Homo sapiens: one gene and its partners. The protein of the gene in region 2 interacts with the protein of the main gene of each other region in a pairwise test. Each region holds a gene or a part of one and is shown on either strand. Other genes may lie near its edges.

Region 1 (7,038 bases), on a different chromosome or scaffold from region 2:
GTTATATGAATGGCAAATTAGCACATGAAAAGATACTCAACATTATCAGTCATCAGGGAAAGGCAAATGAAAACCACAATGACACGTACCAGTGTACACCCACAGAATGGCAAACAATGGTGGTGGTTTTAAGGGTATACATGTATTTCAAAACTTATCAAATTGTACACTTCAAATATGTACAGCTCACTGTATGCCAACTGTACCTCTACAGACCTGTTCAAAAAACAAAAAAAAAAGAAAGAATCACAAGACCAAGTATTGGTGAGGACATTTGGAAGGGCTAGGATTCAAACTCTAATGCAAGATTTCTCAGCCTCAGAACTAATGACATTTTGAGCTGGGGAACTCTTAGATTAGGATGCTGTCCCATGCATTTTAGGATGTGTAGCAGTATATCTGGCCTCTACTCACTAGGTGCTCCAAGTTGTAACAACCCAAAATGTCTCCAGACATTCTCAAATGTCCCTTAGGAGGCAAAACCCCCTTAGTTGAGAACCACCCCTTAGTCTGACACCACAGCCCAAGCTCTTAAAAACATCTTTCTTTCCACTTCTGGCACTATCTTGGTTCAGGTCCTGAATTTAGTTCACCCAAGACCTCATTATTAGTCAGTCTACATCTAGGCTGTCATCTCTTGTCATTTCAATAGTCACACTACCAACAAATTAACCTTCTAAACCTTCAGGGCTTAGATAAATGACTGCAGAAACTGCCCTCACTACCACTATGCAGAATTCCTATAAACCCTTTGTATGTACTGTGTAAACCTTTGTATATATACAAAGTCATTACACTGTCTCATATTTCAGTGTCTGTCTTCCCATTAATACATGAGATTTTCCCCAACAACGGCCACCTCACTCATATCTATATCCCTAGAACCCAGAACTAGAAAGCATTCAAATGTTTCTTAAACAAATTACATACAACAACAAAATGCCCGGATCTCTTTGCTTTAAATATGTAACAACAACAACAACAACAAAAGCCCCCAAATCATACAGTAAAGCTTTCATCAATGTGAATCCTATCCAAACAAATGGATCTTGTTCCTAATAGGACCAGAAAGGATTCTCCAACTCATAACCCAAACATCATTAACAGACATATTGGACTCTTCAGAATTTTCCAAAAGCACATAGAGACCAAGTTTCCTAATCTTTTTTGTGTGTGTGTGAGATGGAGTTTCGCTCTTGTTGCCCAGGCTAGAGTGCAATGGCACGATCTCGGCTCTCTGCAACCTCCGCCTCCCAGTTTCCAGCGATTCTCCTGCCTCAGCCTCCTGAGTAGCTGGGATTACAGGCATGCGCCACCACGCCAGGCTAATTTTGTATTTTTAGTAGAGACGGGGTTTCTCCATGTTGGTCAGGCTGGTCTTGAACTTCCAGCCTTAGGTGATCCGCCCGCCTCAGCCTCCCAAAATGCTGAGATTACAGGCATGAGCCACCACGCCCGGCCAGTTTCCTAATCTTAAAACTCCTTTCAGTCCATTGCAGTTTTTCAGGGGCATTAAATAGTATCACATTATTTTGGACAACCAAACCCATCCCACACTAACTCCTCTTGCCACCAATTCATTTATTGGTTCACTAGTTTTACTGAGCTCCCCCTTAGTACCTTATAAGGGTGCAAAGATGAACTATGATAAGGAAATAAAAGTTTTAAGGGGAAAAAGATACAAAGAAATAATAATGCATGAGGTTCTTATCTCAAACTGTCTTTGTTTTTCTTAAACTGTCTTACAGTTTGGTCTGCACTAGAAATGTTCTCAAAAGATAACTCAGCCACTAACTAACACCTATCAAAAAGAATTATTTAACATCAATATCCTAAAATAAAAATCATAATTTTAGGCCAGGCACGATGGCTCACGCCTGTAATCCCAGCACTTTGGGAGGCCAAGGCAGGCGGATCAATTGAGGCCAGGAGTTCGAGATCAGCCTAGCCACCATGGGGAAACCCCGCCTCTACTAAAAACAGAAAAAATTAGCTGGGCATGGTGGTGCGCCCCTGTAATCTCAGGTATTCAGGAGGCAGAGGCACAAGAACCACTTGAACCCAGGAGGCAGAGGTTGCTGTGAACCGAGATAGCATGACTGCACTCCGGTCTGGGAAACAGAGTGAGACTCCATCTCAAAACTAAATAAAAATTTTTAAAATCCTAATTCTGGGCTGGGCATGGTGGCTCATGCCTGTAATCCCAGCACTTTGGGAGGCCAAGGCGGACGGATCACCGGAGGTCAGGAATTCAAGACCAGCCTAACGAACATGGAGAAACCCCATCTCTACTAAAAATACAAAATTAGCTGGGTGTGGTGGCGCATGTCTGTAATCCCAGCTACTCAGGAGGCTGAGGCAGGAGGATCACTTGAACCCAGGAGGCAGAGGCTGCAGTGAGCCGAGATCACACCATTGCACTCCAGCCTGGTCAACAAGCAAAACTCCATCTCAAACAAAAAAAAAAAAAACAAAAAAAAAACCATAATTCTGTCAACTGTTTTCTAAAATGTACTACATATGTAATATAACTGTCAACAACTCTACATAGCAGACCCGTTCAATCAGTTACTCAAGGCTACATTCAACAATTAACTTACCTTTTTTTTTTTTTTTGAGACAGGTTTTCACTGTTGCCCAGGCTGGAGTGCAGTGGTGCAATCATGGCTCACTGCAGCCTCCACCTCCCAGTCTCAGCTGATCCTCCCACCTCAGCCTCCCAACTAGCTGGGACTACAGGTGTGTACCACCACACCTGGCTAATTTTCGTATTTTTGGTAGAGATGAGGTTTCACCATGTTGCCCAGACTGGTCTTGAACTCCTGGGCTCACACCATTCATCTGCCTCAATTAATTCATCTTGAAGTGTTTACCAGGAATTTATATCATTTGATATTCAGAATTTCTATAGCCACAGTATAAAACTGATACTAATACCTTTCTTTTTTTTTTTTTTTTTTTTTTGAGATGGAGTCTCGCTTTGTCGCCCAGGCTGGAGTGCAATGGCGTGGTCTCAGCTCACTGCAACCTCTGCCTCCCAGGTTGAAGCGATTCTCCCGCCCCAGCCTCCTGAGTAGCTAGGATTACAGCTGCCTGCCACCACGCCCGGCTAATTTTTGTACTTTTAGTAGAGACGGGGTTTCGCTACATTGGCCAGACTGGTCTCAAACTCCTGACCTCGTGATCTGCCAGCCTGGGCCTCCCAAAGTGCTGGGATTACAGGTGTGAGCCAGCATGCCCGGCAACTAATACCACTTTTTTTTTTTTTTTTTGAGACGAAGTCTTGCTCTGTCACCCAGGCTAGAGTGCAGCGATCTCGGCTCACTGCAACCTTCTCCCAGGTTCAAGTGATTCTCCTGCCTCAGCCTCGCAAGTAACTGGGATTACAGGCATGCGCCATTGTGCCTGACTAATTTTTGTATTTTTTAGAGATGGGGTTTCACCATCTTGGTCAGGCTGGTCTTGAACTCCTGACCTTGTGATCCACCCGCCTCGGCCTCCCAAAGTGCTGGGATGACAGGTGTGAGCCACCGCGCCCGGCCTAACACCTATTTTTTTAAATATCTGGCTACAACCATTACATCCTTATTCTATAATTCATCTTTGGGGTCTTAACTGTACATTTTGTTTTCTAGTTTTAGAGCAACCCCTGCACTGTTTTCTGAGGAAAATCTTGGTCCTGCCCATAGGACCTTTAAATACATGTGCTGGTTGTCCATTCAGGTCAAAATGCTGACATGATCAGGATCTAACCTAAATCAGGCATGCTGAATATGTAGCCTCATGATTCTGGACTGAGAAAATAAACTCATTGCAACCTGATGCTTACTTAAATTCCTGGAGAATTACTAAAGGATTTGTTCACTCAAAAATTCAATAAACTGTTCTCTACGTGCCAGATGCTATTCTAGCTGCTGGGGATAAACAGTGAACAAAACACGTATAGTCCCCACAGTGTACGCATCCCTCTTTACCTCTGAATCAAGCCAAACCATCAGAGAGCCATATACCAAAACCACATTGCTTTGGCCCCGTGGAGACTGTTCACTGGCAATAACTCACTTGGATTGAGAAGTATAAGAAGCAATCTTTATTTATTTATTTAAGACGGAGTCTCACTCTGTTGCCCAGGCTGGAGTGCAGTGGTGCAATCTCAGCTCACCGCAACCTCCACCTCCCAGGTTCAAGAGATTCTCTGGCCTCAGCCTCCTGAGTACCTGTGATTACAGGCACGCGCCACCATGCCCGGCTAATTTTTTGTATTTTTAGTAGAGATGGGGTTTCGTCATGTTGGCCAGGCTGGTCTCAAACTCCTGACCTCAGGTGATCCACCCGCCTCAGCCTCCCAAAGTGCTGGGATTACAGATGTGAGCCACCACGCTTGGCCAAGAAGCAATCTTTAAAAACTCACGTTTGATTTTAGAGATACCATGAATCTGAAAACTGAACTTTATTTTCTTCTTCATTTTACTCCAGAAAACTCAGAGCCAAACACCAAAGCAACCATTAGCAATGATGCAGGACTTTCCGGTCCATGCACTAATTCTGCCACTGGCTTTATCTGCTTCTTTCATTTCTTCTTGGCCTTTATTTTTAATCTTCTCATTTTGAAAAGAAGTGGGAAATAAAAGATATTTGATGGGTGTTTTTTAACCTAAAATTTATTGTGTACCTTCTATGTGCCAGGCACTATCCTAGGCACCTTACAACCTTGGGGAAGTCGAACTATTATTTCTTTTTTTTTTTTTTTTTTTTTTGGAGACAGAGTTTCGCTCTTGTTGCCCAGGATGGAGTGCAATGGTGCAATCTCGGCTCACTGCAACCTCCACTTCCTGGGTCCAAGCGATTCTCCTGCCTCAGCCTCCCGAGTAGCTGGGATTACAGACATGCGCTACCACGCCCAGCCAATTTTTTTTTTTTGAGGCGGAGTCTCGCTGTCGCCCAGGCTGGAGTGCAGTGGTATGAGCTCAGCTCACTGCAAGCTTTGCCTCCCGGGTTCACGTCATTCTCCTGCCTCAGCCTCCTGAGTAGCTGGGACTACAGGCACCTGCCACCACGTCCAGCTGATTTTTTTTGTTTTTAGTAGAGACGTGGTTTCACTGTGTTAGCCAGGATGGTCTCGATCTCCTGACCTTGTGATCCGCCCGCCTTGGCCTCCCAAAGTGCTGGGATTACAGGATTGAGCCATCGTGCCCGGCCCAATTTTGTATTTTTAATAGAAATGGGGTTTCTCCATGTTGGTCAGGCTGGTCTCAAACTCCCGACCTCAGGTGATCTGCCCACCTTGACCTCCCAAAGTGCTGGGATTACGGGCGTGAGCCACCACGCCAGCAGAACTATTATTTCTACTATATAGATGAGGAAACTGAGGCAGAGACAGGCTTATTAACTTGCACATGATCTCGCAAACTACATTTGACAGAGCTGAATTCAAATTCAGCCCAGACCATTTCATGTAAGTGTATGTACAGGCCATGATGGGACCCAATAAGGTGGAGCAGAGGGAGGGTGGGGGGAAGCCCTCACTGAGCAAAGTCTTAAAGGAGGGGGCTTGTCAAGGAGCAAGGAGAAAGTACTCCAGAAAGAAAAAGAAATCACATACAAAAACCCAAAGCAGACCAGGTACTGTGGCTGACGCCTATAATTCAAACACTTTGAGAGTCTGAGGAAGGCAGATAGCTTAAGCCCAGGAGTTCACGACCAGCCTGAGCAACATGGTAAAACCCCACCTCTACAAAAAATGCAAAAATTAGCTGGGCATAGTGATGCACATCTGTAGTCCCAGCTACTTGGGAGGCTGAGGTGGGAAAATCACCTGGGCCCGAGAAGTCAAGGCTCCAGTGAGCCATTGTCACACCATTGCACTCCACCCTGAAGTGAGACCGTCTTTAAAAAACAACAACAACAACAACAAAAACAACAAAAACCCTAAAAACAAAAAACCAAAGCAAAGAGGGAACATAAGTTCTGGGAATGGCAAATGGAGCACGGAGTTACATTCAGCAATTAATTCATCTTGAAGGTTCACCAGAAAGTTAAATCATTTAAAAGTAGACATTTAATAGTTCCATCATTGAAAATCGATATGGCCAAAGTATTAACCGTGGCTGGGAAAGTATGAAGAAGTAAAATAAAGGCAATTTTTTTATATGATTAGGCTAAAAGTCTGAATGATGTTCAATAAGCAATGAGGAAGCACAGAGGGATCCTAAGCATGAGAATTACAAGATCGATTTGCACAGTACAGGGAGGGAATTACAGATTCAAGGTAGGGAAACCAGTCAGAAGGCTACTGAAGAGTCTGGCAGTGGGGTAATGAGAGTTAAATGAGAGCTATCCAAAAGAAATACAATGCAAAGAAATACAATGCAAGTTAAATGTATGCAGCTTTTAATTTTCTAGTAGCCATATTAGAAAAAATAAAAAGAAAGGCTGGGTATGGTGGCTCACGCCTGTAATCCTAGCACTTTGGGAGGCCAAGGCTGGCGCATCACTTGAGCACAGGAGACCAGCCTGAGCAACACAGTGAGACCCTGTCTCTTACAAAAAATAAAAAGTTAGCCTGGCATGGTGGTGCACATCTGTAGTCCCAGGTACTTGGGAGGCTGAGGTGGAAGGATTACCAGGTCGAGGCTGCAGTGAGCTGTGATTGCACCACTTCACTTCAGCCTTGACAACAGAGCCAAGCCCTGTCTCAGAAGAAAAATAAAAAGGAAAAAGAAGTAAGTGAAGGCCAGGCCCGGTGGCTCACACCTGTAATCCCAGCACTTTGGGAGGCCTAGTCAGACAGAGCACTTGAGGCCAGGAGTTCAAGACCAGCCTGGCCAACATGTTGAAACCCCGTCTCTACTAAAAATACAAAAATTAGCCGGGCATGGTGGCAGGCGCCTGTAATCCCAGCTAATCGGGAGGCTGAGGAAAGAGAATTGCTTGAACCCAGGAGGCGGAGATTGCAGTGAGTCAAGATCACATCACTGCACTCCAGTACGGGCAACAAAGTAAGACTTTGTCTCAGGAAAAAGTAAGTGAAAATAATTT
Region 2 (7,301 bases):
CAGCTCCAAACTCTCTCTTTAAAAATTATTCCATGCTTGCAACCCACTGGTGCTAATATGCTGGCTGCGCTTGATCTTCTATTCACCATTGCTTGCTTGTCTGTTGCTTTTCAAGTTCCCGGAGCATCTTCCCTCATCTATCAGTGTGCACTGCACACCCTTCTGCAGTGGTTTCTAGGGGTGGGGGGCTTCTGGACCCCTTGGGTTGCTTTGCTACCTCCTAAGGTGGGCTCAGGATTCTACAACTTTAACATGTTCTACCATGATGCTAATGTGTCCTGAAGTTTGAGACCCGCTAGCCTAGAGGTTAAGGCCTAAGGAAAGGGCCCTGTGTTCCACTCAGCACATTCTGCACAGGGCCAGGTGCAGAGCCGTGCACACAGCAGCCCTCAGTGCCTCCGTTGACTGGCTCCTTGGGCCAGGGGCTCAGAGCCAGGGGAGGGCAATGATTAAGGGCATTGTACCAATTGGGAGAAAATTTATAGAAATTCCATGGAGCTTTCAATTAACATCATTAGCTGTCACTCAAAAGGGCAACTTGAAAGTGTTAGGAGCTGCAGATTCAGGGCTGGTCGTCAGTTCCCAGCCTGTGGCTGAGGCTACAAAGCTGTGGCAAGTGACCCAAGATGCAGGTGCACCCCATACTCTGTCTGTGGTCTCAATATAAAATGTGGCCGTAGCTTTTAAATGTACCTGGATGTTATATAACTAATAAAATACGTGTTCATTTAAAAATGCTACCAAAGGTCTACTGCTCTTTATGCACTTTCTCATTCATAATATATTTTAAATACCAGTGTGACTAGGTCACATTTTTAATGTTAAGGTTTGGAAGGTTTATAGTGGAAAAAGTTGAGACTCGCATATCCAGCCTTTTCCTCTCAGGTCAGAAAGGAAAGAGCTGAGAAGGAAATGTCACACAGGTGGAGGGGATCATCCTGCTGCCCCCTACTAACAGGTGCACAAGTCCATATTGTGAAAAGCACCAGTGTTGCGGTTTCCCTCACCCAGTGCCAGGAGCTACATGGCTCAGCAGGAAGGAATCTGTGTCTTTTCTGCAGAATGAACTGTAACCTCCTGAAGCTGAAGTGCAGGCCCCGATGGGGACCAACTCGCAGGAAGCATCTGTCTCCTGTGTCCCTGTCCCTGCCCCTTTCCTGGGAGCAGGCTTCCCCAACTCTGCAGAGCCATGCTCCTCTCTCCTCCCCATTCCCTGGCCCAGGCCTGCACAGAATTCCTCCTCTGTCACGGTCACAGCAGGGGCTTGCTTCCCCCTGTTGGCAGGGTCAACAGGCACAGTGCCCACGGTCCGTGGAAAAAAAAGTTTGGGGATCCACAACAAACATATTTTCACTTCTTTTAAAATCTGAAGAAAAATATAAACTTACAGGTTAAATAAAATGTTTTATTATTGTACATATTAACACATTTGTCTTTATGCCAACACTGTGTAAAATACAAATGTTACTATTTTTGTTGAGGGAAAAGGCCCCAGAAGGCCCCAGACCACTAAGGCGAGTTGGTGCAGCCGGCCACCAGGCTGGGCCCTTGGCAACCAGCACTCCATCAACTGCTTTGCACAGCAGCTAAACCGCAGGAGGGCTCGGCCTGGGACCCCCTCTGCGGGCCTGCGGCTTTAGCCAGCAGAAAGAGGGGCGTCAGTCCTATCCCCAAAGTTCCGCCTCGGGAAAGAGCCCTGAGCTCTGAACTCCGACGAAAAAAGGAAGGGCTCTGTTCCGGACCGGGTGGGGTTTGGGAAGGGTAGAGCCGGCCTCGGGTGCCCTTCTTACAGGGCCTGTCTCCCGCTGCGTGCACCAAGTGCTTTGAAAGTTTTTCGCGGATTAAAACGAATAAAAACCTCGTCGAAAGGCAAAGAAGGCAGGGTTGAAAAGTACTCAGCTCGACACCGGAGAAAAAAGAAACCCCCATAGGAACTCCGGTTGTTCGGGTGTGTCCTAACAGCCTCACTCTGGACCTCTTGGACCTGGTGAGTCCGTGTCCCCAGTCCCTGCGGGGACAGCTCAGGAAGAGAGCGGGTTCCAGGACAGCCCAAGCATCCGAATCAAGTTATCTACACCTTCGAGACTGAGCAATAGATGAACGAATCGAGTCTATTTGGGTAAGCTTTTTCTTTTGTTTTGTTTTCCTCTTAATTGTTTAGTTAAAGCAAGGATTCGTTCCTCAGGGTCTCTCTTCGGGAATATTCGTTAATTATAATTTCATCTGTGACAGCCTTCCTCTGAGATGGCCCAATTGTAAGGTCCAGGGAATGCTGGCTTTTCCCGCTTCGGTATTCCTAGTAAACGCCTGTTCCACCCAGCCTCAAACGTTTCCGTCCCTGCCCTGTCCATGCACGCCGGTCCCTGTCGCCAGGCGTCCTGGCCTGGCCGCTGCCCCGTCTCCCCGCCCCCTGGGGCGCCGATCTCCGCTCCTGTCCCAGCAGAGGAGCCTCCCTGCCCGCCGCGCGGTTTCACTTTGGACCGCGCCAAGTGCCCCCGCTCTGAATCCTGGGCACCGCGAGCACCCACGCTCGCGCAGATGGCCAGCCACGCGGGCACGAAGAGGGCCCTCGTCCCGCGTGCCGGGTCTTCCCCAGGCTCCGCGCTCGCACCCGCCCTGCAGTGCCGCCAGCCGCCCGCCGCCCGCCCCCGGCCCCCAGCCCGCTCGGCCGCGCGCTCACTCACCCAGCATCTTGCTGAGCTCGGCGTTGTGCAGGTCCGGGTTCTGCACTGCCAGCCGTTTCCTCTCGTCCTTGGCCCAAACCATGAAGGCGTTCATGGGCCGCCGGATACGGCTCTCGGAGCCCTTGTCCCCCGGGGGCCGGGGGACGGCCGGCGGCGATTGTCCATCCGACAGCTCGGCGTCCAGGGCCGGGCACTCGAGACCCTCGGGCCAAGGGTAGGCTCCCAGCAGCGAAGCCATGGCCGCACGCGGGTCGCCTCGCTTCGCCTGGCGGGGCAGGCGCGGACCTGGCCCTCGCACGGGTCGGGGCGTCCAACTTGGCCCGCAGCCGCGACCCGGCCCCTGATTTATCAGCTTCGGGCGGCCGCGTCCTCCAATGACTCTCCAAGGCGGCGCGGCCCCTCCCTCGGTGTCGGCGCGGGTCCCCTCCCTGCGTCCCGGGCCGCCGCCGGGTCCCCGCTCCGACCTGCCGGGAGGAGGACGGAGGGAGGGAGTGAGGGAGGGCCTCCTCCCCGCGCCTGCCCCCGGCCCGCCCCTCCGCCGCCAGGGCCCGCCCGGGGATCTGCGCCCGGCTGCCCCGGGCCGCCTCCCGCCCCCTGCCCTGGACCCGCAGGTGCCGCAGAGACGCAAGGCAGGCGCTGGAGGCCCGCTCCAGCCCCTGCCTGCCCGGGCCAGACTCCACCGCCCTCCCTGCGCGTGTGGCCTCAGAAAATCAACCCAACCAGGTTTCGCCGAGCCCGCCTGGGTGTGAGAGACATTGACCATGAACCCCTCAGAGCAGCCGTTCTTAATACTCCGACTGCCATTCCTTTCGAAAATGACCGGGCTTCGGCCACCGCAGCCCCAGTCAACTTGGGCCGCCACAGAGGCCGGCCGGAGCCGGGGCTGGGGGCCGCATCCCGCCTCGGGTTCTGTGCAGTGCTCACCCAAGACCCCTCGACGCCCCCGCCGCCCCTGGCTCTCAGGAGGGCGAGGCCGTCGTTCTGGTTCTCAGCCACCTGATTGATTTCTCCTCTCACTCCACCCGCACCCAGTCTCCGGGTCCAGGCCTCCAGCTCCCTCACTTCTGGCTCTTCTCACCCTGAATTTTCTCCTTATATTTTTTCTTTCTTCCTCCGATTGGCAGTCCCGCTTCTCCGAGTGGAGTCGCTCCCGCCCTCTCGCGTCCCCCCCTGGCTGCGCTGCGACCTGCGAACTCCCCCAGTTTCCCTCATCTGCACACCCTGGTGTAGACCGACCGTGCGCGCCGGGCCCACGTGCAGCCTGGGGACTGCAGGCTGGGAGCTCACGGCCATCTCTCGGCCGCGCTCACCGCAGCTCCCCTGTCACCCGGCCCCCTGTGAGGAGCTCTGTTCCCGCGCTCTCATATAAGCGCCGGCACACAGTAGGCGCTCAAGGCCTGCAGAATGAGTGAGCAAATATAGCTCAGACACCTACTGAATGAAAGTCGGCAGGTTTGACTAGATCCTGGAATTTAAAATTTACTGAGCGCCACCCATGTGCGGGGCTCCACAGAGGTGATCCTGGAAGGAGGCAGCGTTGTGGGGGTGCGGGGGTGCCGTGGGGTCCGGAGTCAGAACCTTAGTGTTCAGGTGACTGAACGCGCGACTCTGGACAAGTCACATCTCTCTGGATCTCTTTTCCTAATCCTAACACGGGACAATGATAAGACTGACTTTCCGGGGCTGTTGTGAAGATTCGGTGAGATAAATGCAGAGAAAGCTCCAACCCTGCCTGTGATGCTTGATGTTAATATAACTCTAGGCATGAAGCCCGTGAGCCTGAGTCCGGATTTCAATGTCCCCGCGCGCAGCGACCGATGCCTTGCATGCAACATGCAACGGGCCCGACGGCTAAGACCCGGCAAGTGTAAGGTGAACTGCAGCGTCTCTGTGTTCACGTCCTAATTTTTACCTCTAGAGCCGGGGACAATTTTCATCCGAGAATTAGCTTTCCGCACAAAAGAGATGGCTGGGTTTGCCCCTCTTTTCCAGCCAGGATTCAGTAGCAGCACCCTAGGCCGGTGCGCCCCAACCGCTGCACTGGTGGGCCGGGAATACAAGGGTGTGGGGCGGGGCGCGCGCTGCGCAGCTCGAGCAGAGAACAGGGTGCCCACCGCTGGGGCAGCATCCTGGAACCAGAGGCGAAGCGGCGGGGGACCCACCTGGGGCCGTTTGCAGAGAGTGCGTCCTCCATCTAGGCGGACTTCCCAACCCTGCAAAGCCCAGGCCATTTCCACTGGCCAACCCCTTTCCCGCATATGCCTCCAGCAAAACCCTTAGGCCAGAGTGCGCCTCGTGGGATCCAGGGCCGCGCCCGGCCAGGAGAAGGGAGCTATTTGAGAAAGGGGAGAAAGAGGGTCCCACGGGGGGATTGAGCGGCGGCGGAGGATCCCGGGAAGAGCTCGTCCCCGACACTTTCTGACCCTACTGAGCTCCAGGGCGGTGGCAGTGCTCTGCAGGGTCGGAGGCCACGAGGGGACAGCGCCCCCTTCCCGACGACGGGCGTCCCCACTCCCGGCCGCAGCCCGTAGCACCCTCCCTGCAAGGCCCCAGAGCAGAGCGCGAAAGCCGTGGGGCCGCGCCCGGGCACCAGGTTAGGAAGATGCGCCCTCCCCAGGGAACACGGAATGGTCAAGTTAGATCCCAGACACCGATGGCAACAACAGAGAAAACAACGGGGACGGGGCCAGAGAATACGTGCTGTGATTATTGTCTGCACTTGTTTAGTTTCTTGCTTTTCCTCTGCAGCGAGCTTGCAAGCCTGGGCTGTCCAGGAGGTGAACATTAACCTTCCCAGCGCTGACGCGGGCGCCGCCCGGGGCTTGGAAATTGTCAGCACCGCGGTAGCCGGGCTCGCTCGCTCCATTCCTTCATTCCCTTGCGTCGACGCATTTATGCACCTTGGCAACTGTAAGCGAGCGCGCCCTGGTGCAGGCGACGCCAAGGGACGCGGGGTCTCCATAACCTCGCCGATTCTCTGGTCACTGCGACCTTCAGTCCTAGAGCTCCGCGCCGACCCTACGCGACCCCAAAGCCTGGAGTTCGGAGGGCTGAGCTAGAGGGGGAGGGCGCCAGCCCTGGCATCCCGACACTTGCTGTCGCCAGCGCTGGGTTCGGGGCCGCGGCCAGCGGTGGGTCCAGCGGCTCTTGGGTCGAGGCTAGGTGCGGCGAATCATCACGGCGCGGACCCTGGAAGACCTGGAGGAGAAAGGTCGAGGCCCAGGGCTACCGGGCCGGATCTTGCGGGGCTCTGACCCGCAGCAGGACCGGTTGGGGGTTCCTGCAGGGGCCGCCAAGCAGAGGCGGAGAGGCAGGGCCGGGTGTGGTGACGCGGGGCGCACTGGACACCGCGCGTGCTCCACGCAGCCGGCCTGGCGGCACCACCACAGCTCACTCCTCCCGCGTGAGTCACCTGAACTGCACTCTCTTAAAAGATGTTCTCTTTCTTCCTTCTTTCTTTTCTTTTCCTTCCCTCCTTTCTCCCCGACCCCCTTCTCTGTCCGTTTAGCTCGGTAGTTCTGTGAACACTGGTTTCCAAGGACACAGGGCCCGAAGCCAGAAATCCCCAATTCCAATTTCCTGCAATTCACTTGTATTTTGATAACTGACTTAACTACTATCGGCCTCAGTTTCTTCACCGGTAAAATGGGGATAATACAAGGTGGCTGACACAGTGTTTGTAAAAGCTCCTAGTAGACTTTTCTGAGTTGTGAAATATGAAATCGTGAGTGGGCGAAAACCAAAAAAAAAAAAAAAAAAAAAAAAAAGTCGGGCCTCCACAACTTTCCTCTCCAGGAGCTGTTCTTATTCTATTCCAAACGGAGGAATTTCAGCTGCCCTGGGGGGAAGGGGAGAGGGAGGGGGAGGAGAAGAGGGAGGAAGAGGGGGAGGGGGAGAAGGAGGGGGAGGGAGAGGGCAATCCCGCCACGGTACCCCTGGCACCTGCTCCGAACCCGCCGCGAACCCGGAGCTCTGAACCGGACCAGGCGCGTCCCGGGCCCACGGCCTGCCTTGGGCGGAGCCACCGCGCATGCTCCGGAGGCCCGCGGCAGCGCCCGCAGGCGTTGGGTGCAAGTGTTCTGTGGTTGCTTTTAGTTCCTCACACCAGGCTAGAGGTTGAAGTCATTATCATCACCATCTTTGATCACGCTGATTTGTCTGTACTTGATTGGCAGTCTTTGCAAAGCAGGTTCCCATTCACTGGCTCATCCCCGCCTCCACACAACCCTCGAAGCAGAAGGCCCAGAGTTTTAGGACTGAGCCATTTCCCATACAAGGCGGGTGAGGCTGCGGCTACAAAGGCCAGAGCACAGACCCCAGCGCACGGCTCCTGACCTCACGCCTGGACTACCAGGTTCCTGTGCGCCCCGGTAGTGCCCCAGCTCGAGGGAAGTGCTTCTAACCAGCCGCTGCGACGCCTCCTGGCTTTGCGCCCCCTCTAGCCTGGTCTCTGGAAGTTCCACTGCGCCTTTCCTCATCCACAGGGTGCCTTCAGTTTAAGGCGTGTCCTGAACAAGGTAACGTGAAAAGCAAGGGGCCAAACCCTGCTGGCCACGGCCGAGGTGCGGGCTGCAGAGAGGGGAGACCCGGCCAGGCCTGCCAGCCCCGCCTCCCGCG
Region 3 (7,038 bases), on a different chromosome or scaffold from region 2:
TTAAGGTCCAGAAAGTCGTAACTCAGAGTCCAAAATATAGGTAATTCATAATTAAGAGAAAAGCAAACTTTTATAACACACCACTGTACTGATACTGTCTCTAATATAATAATCATGAATATTCATTGAGCTCTTGCTATATGCCAGATACTGCTCCTAAAAGCTCTTTGAAGATGCTCTCGCTTAATCTTCACAGCAGGTCTATGCCAAAACACTCTTATCCCCATTTTATAGATGAGAGGCTATGAGAACTGCCTAGATATAGCAGAGCTGGGATTTGAACTCAGGAAGCTCACTCTAGAGCCTATGCTCTTAATGATAAGTTAATGGATCATGAGGCGCATTGCCACACCCATCTAGACTTGGGACTTGGTTTTCTCTGTGTATAATTCTGCTTTTGTACACTTTAGCAATGAATCTGATTTTGAAACAGTTACTACACAAGATCCATCTAGTTTCATACTCTGTGTCTTCAATTTTATTAAATCCCAAACTAAACATAAAATTACATGTGGGTACCACTGAAACCTGTACCCAGGAAGGTTCAAAATGATGCATCTTTTCAACGTTTTCATAAAGCAAACATGAAACACTAAGTGATTAACAGAGAGACTATATACAGTGTGACCAACAGGTATTTATTTATCTGAGCCATCATGCTTACTACCTGGGGCCACTGAGGGAACTGTATCTTTGAAAAAAACCCTAACTAGATTCAAAGTTCTCACTTTGCAGTAGCAAGATACAACCTTTCTTTTAGAATCAGGGCCAAGGCACTCTTTAACTTTTCTAAACTCCTATGAAAATAGTCATTTCACAGATGCTTTTCCTTTTTCAAATAGCCTCTTGTTTTCTTAAAGGACAGACTACAGAGGAGGAAAAGGGCAGCCACATATTGTATACATGATTGATTGTACAAAAAGAAGTTACTAAACAGCTGGAGGGGGCGATTCAGTAGTAAAGGAAAATAGAAAGTAGTCAGTCTCTAGGTTAGCCATTGCATTTTATTGTATAAATAGCATTCTAACTTGGAAAGGATGCCCCTGAGGTAGAAATGAGTCTATTTTTCTAGGCTCCCCAAAGTGCAGTCTACGATCCAAAGATAATTGCATCATGATTTAGTCATAAAACACACACCACTGTGATGACTATGTATTTAACACACAGCAAGTCAACAGACAACTATACCCTTTTTATACATGTACTATGGCATGGCATACTAAGATGTCACAAGATATTTGCTCTCGTTTTCTCTTTTCTTTCAACTGTTGGTATTTGTGTTTATTTTATATATATACACATACACATGTATATACTATATAAAACATACATAATAAACACTAACTTTATCATTACAAGTGAAACATACAATGTTTAATTTAGACTGATCATGATTATTTTAAACACTAACAGTATGTTTCACAGGAAGGATGAAATCAAAAGAAATACAATGCTAAAAAACTGCTTATTTTATTTCATTCACCAATCTATGTATTACCTGAAACCTGAAGTGTGATTAAAGCAAAGTGATTTCATTTCATGGGGATCCACAGCAGACTCTGAGGCAATTCCAAAAGAGGACTCCCAAAATTATGACTATTAATATTGAGACAGTGCAACATGCTGAAGCAGGTGCAGAGATCCCAAGTGAACATTTTGAAGGCTGGCATAGGTTTGGCTTCTAGTATATTTTTTAAAAACACAATCTCATTGCTTTTCGGTCACAGCTAATACATTTTTTCGAGCATATTTGATTTGAAATACCTATCCTCAGCAACTTATCAAGGGCCACCATCATCCTGTCAAAACCAACTTTCAGAGAGAAAACTAAGCATATCTTCTTAACATGTAAAAAAAACTCTAATCCAGTTCTCATCACAGGCCAAGCACTGTAAGATGTTCTGTGGAAACCCAACAGCAAGTAATGTCAGGACACTGAGCAAATGAGTGGTAAGTGTCACAGCAGAGGGGCCCCTGAAAGTCTTCCTGGAAAGAGGGAGTTAACGTGTACATTTCAAGAGTCCCAGTAGGTAGACTGGAGTGCACAAACTTTGCCCTCTCCACAGGCCCCTACTGACACCAGCACTCAATAAGCCAAGGGGCTATGGACAGAAATACCTAAATACTCATCAGCAGGGAACTTGCTAAATAAATCGTGGAACTTGTATATAGTGGAATAGTATACATAATACTTAAAAAGACTGACGTAGAAAAATGGACTGATCTACAAAATACGTTCTTACGTGAAAAAAAGCAAAGCATTCATAAAACAATCTAATTGGAGTAACTTTTTCCTGGTTTTAACTATTTATTGTGGCAAATTTTAAACATACAAAATTAGAGAATAGAATAATGAACCCGCACGTACCCATAATGCAGCTTTAACAATCAGCAGCTTATGGGCAATTTTGTTTCTTTTTTTATCCTTCTAATCCCAATTATTTTGGAGAAAATACCATACACAATATTGTTTCCATCAGTATGTGTTATACTGTATTATATATGTTATACTATGACATAGATTAGTATTTTATATTAGTATATATCTCTAAAACATAGGGATTCTAAAAACATCATCACAACATTTGGGTAAATTTTAAAATTGATTATTATTGTTTTTTTTTTTAATTTTAATTTAATTTAATTTTATTTTTAAATTTCTTTTGAGATGGAGTCTCGCTCTGTTGCCCAGGCTGGAGTGCAGTGGCACAATCTCGGTTCACTGCAACCTCTGTCTCCCAGGTTCAAGCAATTCTTCTGCCTCAGCCTCCCGAGTAGCTGGGACTACAGGCACGCACCACCACACCAAGCTAATTTTTGTACTTTTAGTAGAGACAGGGTTTCACGATATTGGTCAGGCTGGCCTTGAACTCCTGACCTGGTGATCCACTGCGCCTGGCCTAATTTTTATTTTTTGAGATGGAGTCTCGCCTGTCACCCAGGCTAGAGTGCAGTGGCGGGATCTTGGCTCACTGCAACTTCCGCCTCATAGGTTCAAGCAATTCTTGTGCCTCAGCCTCCCAGGTAGCTGGGACTACAGCCACCCGCCACCATGCCTGGCTAATTTTTAATGTTTTAGTAGAGAAGGGGTTTCACCATGTTGCCCAGGCTGGTCTCAAATTCCTGAGCTCAGGCCATCTCTCCACCTTGGCCTTCCAAAGTGCTGGGATTACAGGCGTGAGCCATCATGCCGGTCTTAAAATTTATTATTAATATGCGGATCTATGACTCAAACATTTTCTGAGAGGAAATAAAAACATAAGGTAATGGTCATCACTGGGAAAGGGGGCTGGGGTGAAGGGAAGAGGCAGCTTAATTATTCATTTAAAAATACATTTATGTTTTTTGAAACAGAGTCTCGCTCGATCACCCAGGCTACAGGGCAATGGCATAATCATGGTTAACTGCAGCCTCGAACTCCTGGTGTCAAGTGATCCTCCTGCCTCAGCCTCCTGAGTAGCTGGAACTACAGGCACATGCCACCGTCCACCATGCCCAACTAATTTTTTTGGAGGAGGAGAGATGGGGTCTTACTGGTCTTGAACTTGTGGGCTCAGGTGATCCTCTTGCCTCAGCCTCCCAAAGTGCTGGGATTACAGGCATGAGCCACTGTGCCTGAACAAAACTTTAGGTTAGTTTAAAACTTAACTACAACAGAACCGGCTATACCAGGAAGAGCAGCAGAAAGGGTGCCATGACCAGAGGGAGACAGCAAGGTGTCAGTAAACGCCAAACACAGGAAGTAGAGCTTGGCTGAAAGATGTGCAAGGAGTCTTTCATGTATTAATAGATTCAAACTCCAGCAGGTGACAATGTCTATCAGCTTCAGGATATGAATTCTCTAAATGGGTAAAAAGGATAGAGAGCTGTGAACTCAGGGACATTACTGAACATAATTATGATTCCAATAATGTGCAGGGCCAGACAGTTATGAGATGAAATGGCCTCATCTCAACCTCCCTACTGCCACATTCCACAGTAGTATGCATCATTGAAAGTACTGGGATTTTTAAAGGGCACTTCAAAAACGCTACTTTTTTTTTCTTCTTAAACAAGTTAATGTCTTAACTCCTCTTTTCCTTATCTTTAGTCCTTGTAATTTATCTACCTTATCGATTGTAAAAATGTGATTTCCTTCCCTGGTGGTTCTATCTATTTTCTTTGTTATATCTATATTAACACAGCCCTGGGACCCACTAGGGGAACTGCTGGACTACTTTTAAAAAATTAGCCTTTCTGAGTGCTTGTTTACGCTGAATTCAGATACAATAAGGTTCTCCACATTTTTCAATCTTAGAATCAGTATAGTGGGAGCTATAAGAAAATGATATTTAAAGTAGCTGACTTTTAGGATCCTGTTCATTTCTGTCACCATTTTAACACCTCCGACAAATCCAAAATATTACAAATATAGACAAAAGTCCAGAAAGACTGGTCTCAATTAGACTAGTTAAAAGTCTAAACTTCTGAATATATTTTTCAAGAAATACGATTTTCCCACTTTTAAATATTACTTAAGGCTAATAAAACACTCCTCAGTAAATGTCAAAAAGAGAAATGCCTTTAATGAACAGATGGCTAATGTTTTAACTTTTTATGCGCTTCACCATAAATAAGTTATTTTGAGGACTTTAAAATAGTTCTCTTAATTGGGTTATATCCTTCCCCCAACAACTTTGTTTCTTTTATTATTTTGCTTACCAAAACCCAGTATTTCTAGATAGCATATAGAAATGATCTACCTATGCACTGGAAGTGTAATTTCTAAATATATGATATTTTACTGTACTTAACACCAAGGATCTGTTTATTTTACAAAAATGCTTCCCAGAACAAACAACTTTATGCACGATCCAAAATGAAACTGACCTAAAATATGGTTGAGGAATGCAGTAATATTTTGCAAATAAATTGCCCAATTTTACCGCAAGAGGCTCACGTTCCTCTCTGCATAATGGACATTTTTGGTCAGTCTAGAGATTTACTCCAATAGTTGAAAAGATAAAAAAAAAAAAGTGCCAGCTGAGGCTACGCCTTCCCCAGGGGTACCTGTTTCATCCGGGGAGCTGGGTGAGGCACTGTCTTGGGACAACGTTGTCCAGCTGGACTCCTCATCGCTCGGTGCCAGGTTCTGGATCCGGTGCAGTGCACAGTCGGTTTTGGCCCCTGTTTTCGGATGATCCTTCTTGGTTTCTGGGCTGGATGACACTGTGGCTACTTGGCCGTCTTCAGGGCTGGACTGGGGTCTGTTTGGTTTCTGCAGCAGCAAATCGCCATTCCCAATGATGGTGGAGGCCTGGCCCTGGACTGGCTGGGATTTCTCTTCCGCAGTCCCATGGTGATTGCCTCGGTTCTGCTCTAGTTCTCTGGCTGAGGTTTCCAGATCTGCATAGTAATTTAGGAAGCTCTTAGTTCTCCTGGGCTGGGAGGGTAAAATCTCACAGCTCGAGGAATCCTGTGGGTGGGGCTCTTTACCCTCTAACTTCTCAGAAGTTATGTTGATGACTGCAGTGGGGCTCAGGTTTTTGTTGGGGTCCTGCTGCCCTTGCTCTGCAGCCTTACGGAGCTGGTTCTCCCCATTTTTCACCAGCTTGATGTTGGCAGAGCCATTTCCCAGCAGGGGCTGTGCAGCTGGATCCGAGAGGCCCATGGCCGCCTGGATGTTAGTTAGTGCATATTTTTTCCTGCATTTGGGAGGTGTGCTGTTCTTGGTTTCTGTGTGTTTTATTTCAGCGTTCAACAGTTCATTGTGGGAGGATCGGAGGTTAAGGGTGTTTGGTGGTGTGGCTGGGCTGTTCCGATTTGTGACGTCTGTAGTTCCGCTGCTGGCCATAAACACTGCCAAGGTGTCAACACCTGAGTCAGCTGGGGAAAAAAAAAGTCATTAGACACCTGCCATGATTAAACTACTTAGTATACAGTGTGAGTAAATATTTTTATATAGAAAACTAAAAGAAGAAATGCTTCCACTGCACATACATTCTCATAGAATGGACCCATTTTCCTCTTTATTTCACCATTTGTTCCTATATTAAACAGGAGCAAATAAAGGGCTTAACGTGGATAACCAAAAGCCAATTTATAGAAAAGCTAAGAAGTCTGAGGACCTAAATTTTACTTAAAATAAAAAAGCATTTCTCTTTGAATTCACATAAAAGCATTTTCTTCTGGTGGCTGGTCTTCATTTTTTACAAGCTTGAAAAATCATCCCCTTTCCAAATATTCCCACTACATTTTTATTCTTTGGTTCCTTCAGGCAACAACAAAAAATTGCTCAAGATTCCTCTGGGGCTTCAGCTTTCTTAATTAACCTGAAAGGTCATTGTTCAATGATGCTCCATACATCCAAGGTAATTTTTCTCAACCACGTTTAGAAACTGTGTTCTGAATGCCTGGAAAACTAACCCTCCATTAGAGTTTGCTAATGTCTTGGTGAACATTTTTGACCTGGGCTTACTGTTTGTACTAAACTGAAATTTTGAAGAAATGGCTTAATTTCTGAAGAACACGTACACACGCACACAAAACTATTACTGTAGCATTGAGCCCTTGGCTACAGACAACATGTTAGAGCTCCCAGAGGAGTCTGAATATATTCCACTGAATTAAAATACAGACTCAGCTGTTTGCAGTCATCACATGCCTCTGCAGAACTCCTAGGAAACTATCTGGCAACCGCATTTATCTCAAATATTGTTTGCGCCGTTAGTGATTTATTCTATATGTCTCTCGCTGGGAAGAAAGAAAGGTTTCTTAGACTAGAAGGGAATAAAATTCATCAGCAAGAATTCCTAAGGTTTCAGATTTCTCAATCTATGAGGAGTGACTTCTTTCTTATCTGATCCTTTTGCCCTCCACAGAGACTTTGGTGATCTCTACCTCAGCAGCAGATGAACCAAAGCACAGCTCCTGAAATTCCTGAAATTATATTCTGACAATTCCCTCTTCCTCCCCCAGGCAAAACAGGGATCTTTGCAGGAGAGAAGGGCAATAATTTCCTTGTTTGGGAGCTTAGAGGTATCTCTCCATCACCAAATA
Region 4 (5,820 bases), on a different chromosome or scaffold from region 2:
AGAAGTCGAGGCTGCAATGAGCCATAATCGTGCCACTGCACTCCAGCCTGGGTGACAGAGCCAGACCCCGTCTGAAAAAAAAAAAAAAGTAGTGATGCTTACAACAAATGACAATACTTTTCCATTCTTTGTCATGACTACCCATTCTTCTAGACCTTATGAAAAAAGTGCTTGTTGTACCATATTCAATGAGAAATCATTTTCCTCTTAAATGTTTCTTGATAATTCACTACTGGTGCCTTGTGAAATGAGTCTCTAAACCTGCAGACATCCTACACTGCCTCTGCAATGTAACCAGTGCCGAGCTCAGCAATGACATCAGAAACTAATTTCCGTTGTTTTTCCTAAGCTGTAAAGAGATCTTTCACCAGCGAGGGGAGCCATTGTGTTGGCAAAGGAGTTGTCCTAAATACTGTTGTGTACTGCATTCCGCCACAGTTCTCCATTTTCTGAAGACTGCCTTTCTTAACTGCTAGAAGATACTCATGTACTAAGAAAAAGAGATTTAAGGTGGGTTAATTATAGTAGCTGTATGTTTAATACTGCTGTAAAGATACACTTTTTTCATACAATTATTGTTAATAATTTGAAGATGTTTATTGCATTCTATTTTTGGTGGGAAAAAAATGTAACATACATTTATTTAGCACGACATTGTGAAATACACAAAACATGTAACTGAGAAAGCAGGAATTTTCTATTCCTAGTCCATTTCTGAGGACTAAATCATGAACTGCTCCCAATGTAATTAAATATTTCTTACAATAGTTGGGCACCAAGTTTAAGATTTATTAATTTTCTCCTCTCAGTATAGGCAGCAATTCACCATTTTCTTTCAGTTCCTAAAAATAAAAAACAACAATAATAATATGTATATGCATATATAAAAAGATGGAAACATCTAAACAATCACAGCTTGTATGTATATCTGAGAACCAAAAGAAACACCTATTGGATTAAAACTCCAGTCTCTTAACACTCTCAAACTAAATGAGCCATAAACCCTGAATACACTATCAGGTTAAAAAATTTAACAAGGTATTCTTGGCCAGGTGTGGTGGCTCACAAATGTAATCCCAGCACTTTGGGAGGCCGAGGTGGGCAGATCACTTGAGGCCAGGAGTTCAAGACCAGCCTGACCAACATGGTGAAATCTGTCTCTTAAAAAATAAATAAATAAGGCTGGGTGCAGTGGCTCATGCCTGTAATCCCAGCACGTTGGGAGGCCGAGGAGGGCAGATCACCTGAGGTCAGGAGTTGCAGAACAGCCTGGCCAACATGGTGAAACCCCGTCTCTACTAAAAATACAAAAATCAGTTGGGCATGGTGGCGGGCACCTGTAATCCCAGCTACTCAGGAGGCTGAGACAGGGAGAATCTCCTGAACCCGGGAGGTGGAGATTGTAGTGAGCCAAGATCGTGCCATTGCACTCCAGCCTGGGCTAGAGCGAGACTCCATCTCATTCATTCATTCATAAATAAATAAATGAAGTTAAGGTATCCTAAAACCAACAGATTGTTTAGTATTAGGAAACGCAGCAACTGGAGCCAATGAAGCCCCTATTTAAACTGTAGCAATAAATAAGGAAAATAAATCAAGTGACTTTCAAGGTTGAAGAATGAAGTAATGTGGCTGGGCGCAGTGGCTCACACCTATAATCCCAGCACTTTAAGAGGCCAAGGGGGCAGATCACTTGAAGTCAGGAGTTCAAGCCCAGCCTGGCCAACATGACAAAACCCATCTCTATTAAAAAAAAAATTAGCCAGGTGGGCATGGTGGCATGTGCCTGTAATTCTAGCTACTTAGGAGGCTGAGGCATGAAAATTGCTTGAACCCAGAAGGTGGAGGGTGCAGTGACCCAAGAGCCAAGATTGCACCACTGCACTCCAGCCTGGGTGACAGAGTGAGACTCTGTCTCGAAAAAAAGGAAGAAAAAAAAAGCAGTGTGACGTTAAAAGTCTACTCAAATATGATGCTTGTTCCCCTCCCGTTCTTCCACTCACAGAGAGGAATCAGGCTTTGCTATTGAAACCCAACCTGGCAACACATCTCTGCCTCAGGAAAAGCTAGAGTACCAGTAAGAGGGAAAGGCAGAAACCATTAAAAAGACCTAACAATTCAGAAACAGACATGGCATCAAAAGAGCTACCACCAGGTTGACTGGAACTGCAGTACAGGCGCCATGCTCCTTGTGCCTGTTTTTCAGATTTAAAATCTGGATTATAGACACCAAGCTTGAAAGGACAGACATGATAAATAAGATTTTCTGGTTTAAAGAAACATTTAGTATGATATAACATTTCAGGTTATCACTGAACAGCATAAACATCAATCAATAAAACCATTAAAATCCGTATGACCTCCTCTGGATGAAATTCAAATAGGAATGATGCTGTCACACAAAACCCAGACGGCTTTCAGTCATGTCTAGGGATCTTCTTCTACCTACTCAACAAGCAGACACCCTGCCCCTCCAAGGGACCCAGCAGGACTTTTCTGAGCACACACTCAAGAAGGCACGGAGAGGACCACGCAGCTGAGTGGGCAAGGGCAGGTGGCCCTCAGGTGGAATCTGGACTCAATGGCTTACTAGTTATGGGATGGTGGACAATTCACCTGACCTCTCTATGTCTCTGTTTCCTCATCTACTGACTAAGAAGAATTCTGCTCTCTGAGGCTGCTTGGGAGATTACGTGAAGCAGCCTCTTAAAGCACCAAAGCAGTGTGCCTGGAACATTGGGAGCGCGCCAAATAAGGCAGTCCTCGCCACCCTCACTGCTGTTAATGCGAGCCGGCAGGTGGAAAGTCTAAACCTAACCAAATCTTCTATCTCTCTCAACAAACTGTCTTAAGTCCAAACATTCTGGAACAGCAGTAGTGAACCGTTTACTCTTCAGAGGCAATAACAACTCACAATTTTCTCAGGACACTAGATTAGCTGAGTAACTAAATCATCATTCAGTCCCTCATTCAACAAAACAAACGCTCATTGCTCCAAAGAGGCCAGCCAGATTAGACCATTTCAAACATCTTTTAATTGAACTGAACATGAAGAACTGCATTCTGCAAGAAACAGATCAAAATGGGATCGTAAGATCTATTCCATATATCTTCTCAAGGAAAAACGTTAACAATATCACACATTTCAAACGTATATGTTCTTAGCAGGTGAACATAAAAAATCATATAACACTCTGTTATATAACTAAAAAGAAGTTACCCACGCAGCTTAGCTTTAGAATTAAATGAGATTTATTGATTGTATCTTCCCAAGAGTTACCAATGGCTAAGGTACAGGCTATAAAACATTCAGACAAGAACAGGCTCAAGAGTATTTGGGGTTTGAGTATTCTTTGTGTCTTACAAAAATAAGACTATATATATATATATAGAGAGAGAGAGAGAGAGAAAGAGGGAGGGAGGGAGGGAGGGAAGGAGGGAGGGAGGGAAGAAACAAATGCAGATCTGTTTCTGCTGCTTCAGGGCTATTCAAGAGCAATAGTCTTAAAAATTTTTTCCTCCAGGAGTGAGACCATTCCCCAGGAAAAATGTCTCACTGGCTTGTTTAAGAAGTATGATATCAAACCTGGAACTCCACAGGAAACAAAACCTACACAGAGGCCACCAAAGGACAAAAAGAGCCTCTGCATCAATGGAACTCAAGCTTTGTTTTTATAAAACATATTGGTCCAAAGTGCTGATGTCATTTCAGTGGTAGGCTAGTGCTTCACTTTACAAAAGCACGTGTTAAAAACTTTTATTTTGGCCAGGCGCGGTGACTCATGCCTGTAATCCCAGCACTTTGGGAGGCCAAGGTGGGCGGATCACCTGGGGTCAGCAGTTCAAGACCAGCCTGGCCAACATGGTGAAACCCCATCTCTACTAAAAATACAAAAATTAGTGGGGCGTGGTGGCGGGTGCCTGTAATCCCAGCTACTCAGGAGGCTGAGGCAGGAGAATCACATGAACCTGGGAGGCAGAGGCTGCAGTGAGCCGAGATTGCACCATTGCACTCCAGTGGGGAACAAGAGCGAAACTCTCTCAAAAAAAAATGTAAAAAAAAAAAAAAAACTTTTATTTTACAACATAACTAGAAGTAGTACTACTTGCTATTTGTTTTCCACATAAAAAGTCGAAGATCTGACCTCAGAAAATTCTCTCATGGATTGAGGCAAGAGGAAGGCCTGAGGGCAGTCAGCAACCCACTTTTCGGGGCAGTTTTGTTCATGCCCCTGAGCAGACCCTGGCATTCCTGCCCAGCATTCCTGTCTAGCTCCTCTCTATACCCAACCAGCTACCACCCTCCTCGATGCCACCATGCCCACAGTGGGCCTGGGGTGCAGTGGGGTCTGTGTGTAGATATTAAAGCTACAGCTTCTGTTTATTGTTTTGGGCTAATCAAAGAGCTACAGAGCACACAGGTGTTAGTTGGTGGGCCTGCCCTGAATTCTAGACATTAAATACATGCAAAGTAACGTCCATTTAAAACTCAATCAAGAAGTAAAGTCACTTATCCATCCAACAACCATTTACTGAACTCCTAAAATACACAAAGCATCAGGAAGGACTCAAGATACATAAGAAATGGTGTCTTATCTAAAACACAATCTAACAGATAACAGATTTCCAAGCATCTCAAAACCAAAAAGGACCTACATTTTTTCTTTCGGGGGACCAGGGGCAGTGATCCTCAGCCTCTGTGGCAAGGATGGGCAGCACCGGGCCACAGGCCTCACACTGCTGTCACTCCATGCACCCAAGGGCAGATGAGTAAGGCAAGAAAAAACAATTTGTTGTCTGGGAGCTGAAGCAGGATCTAACAAGGACCCTGAGTGACAGGGAAGATCACCCCACAGAAAGGAGATGCAATGGTTAGCTCAGGTGTGAAAGTAAGAACAGGCTGCCACGTGGGGACAGTGAGAATGGCAGGGTAGTCATGCACACAGAAACGGTGATACTGGTCTAGAAATGTCTGAGAGTCAGGCTGGAAACAGGAGTCAAAAACAACTCTCAAGTTTCCATTCAATATGAAATCATTTTTAAACATACCAAAATCTTTTCCGTTCTTTAGAACAGCAGAAGAACTGGCCTTACCTTCACAATATCCAATCCTCCCACCAGCTCCCCTTTCACATACAGCTGAGGGTATGTTGGCCAATTTGAGTAAGCTTTTAATCCTTGCCGAACCTAAAGAAACAACAGGAATCCTGAAACCATCCTATCAGGCCCTTAAGATTAAAGCTAAGACAAGGGTGAAACATCAAACACAGAACTTACTTCTTCATCCTCCAATATATCGAATGTTTCATATTCAACACTGCAAAAAAGAGAAGACATTTTAACTGGAAATACAGTTAAATCAAAGTGTAAAACCTCTATGCATTTGATGTTTTTAAAATAATCAAGAAAACCGTTTCACTGCTAACAAAATGTACTACAGACCAATGGAAATGATTTTACTTCTTAATCTGTCTGGTACTACACAGAATTAGTCATTCCAACATATGACTTTATCTGGATTTTTCTCCGGACAATATTGGGTTAGACCAGGGGTGGGCAAACTTCTTCTTAAAGAGTCAGACACTAAACACTTCAGGCTTTACAGGCCAGACAGTCTCTGCTGCAACTGCTCAGTTCTGCTCTCTGCTGCAACTGTCAGCATAAAAGCAGCCACAGACAATGTATAAATGAAGGGATGTGGCTATGTGCCAATATAACTTTATTTACAAAAATGGGCAGCCAGCTGCAACTTGCCAACCCCTGGATCAGACCCACACCCCCATCTGCACGAGCCTTCATTAACTGAACACTCTTACCCAC

Evidence for each region.
Region 1: the proteins of SOX7 (region 2) and SCAI interact in binary tests that used the Homo sapiens proteins (3 or more experiments, as listed by UniProt).
Region 3: the proteins of SOX7 (region 2) and APBB2 interact in binary tests that used the Homo sapiens proteins (3 or more experiments, as listed by UniProt).
Region 4: the proteins of SOX7 (region 2) and GLRX3 interact in binary tests that used the Homo sapiens proteins (3 or more experiments, as listed by UniProt).

The regions. Positions count from the first base shown.
Region 1 is NC_000009.12:125,133,515-125,140,552, forward strand, and holds part of SCAI (protein SCAI), read right to left. Parts: intron 1-7,038. UniProt on the Homo sapiens protein: Tumor suppressor which functions to suppress MRTFA-induced SRF transcriptional activity. May function in the RHOA-DIAPH1 signal transduction pathway and regulate cell migration through transcriptional regulation of ITGB1.
Region 2 is NC_000008.11:10,727,512-10,734,812, forward strand, and holds the start of SOX7 (transcription factor SOX-7), read right to left. Parts: upstream 3,001-7,301; 5' UTR 2,923-3,000; coding exon 2,685-2,922; intron 2,120-2,684; exon of another isoform or gene 1,780-2,119; intron 1-1,779. UniProt on the Homo sapiens protein: Binds to and activates the CDH5 promoter, hence plays a role in the transcriptional regulation of genes expressed in the hemogenic endothelium and blocks further differentiation into blood precursors.
Region 3 is NC_000004.12:41,008,534-41,015,571, forward strand, and holds part of APBB2 (amyloid beta precursor protein binding family B member 2), read right to left. Parts: intron 5,866-7,038; coding exon 5,050-5,865; intron 1-5,049. UniProt on the Homo sapiens protein: Plays a role in the maintenance of lens transparency, and may also play a role in muscle cell strength. Involved in hippocampal neurite branching and neuromuscular junction formation, as a result plays a role in spatial memory functioning.
Region 4 is NC_000010.11:130,174,364-130,180,183, reverse strand, and holds the end of GLRX3 (glutaredoxin-3), read right to left. Parts: intron 5,318-5,820; coding exon 5,278-5,317; intron 5,188-5,277; coding exon 5,095-5,187; intron 843-5,094; coding exon 792-842; 3' UTR 512-791; downstream 1-511. UniProt on the Homo sapiens protein: Together with BOLA2, acts as a cytosolic iron-sulfur (Fe-S) cluster assembly factor that facilitates [2Fe-2S] cluster insertion into a subset of cytosolic proteins.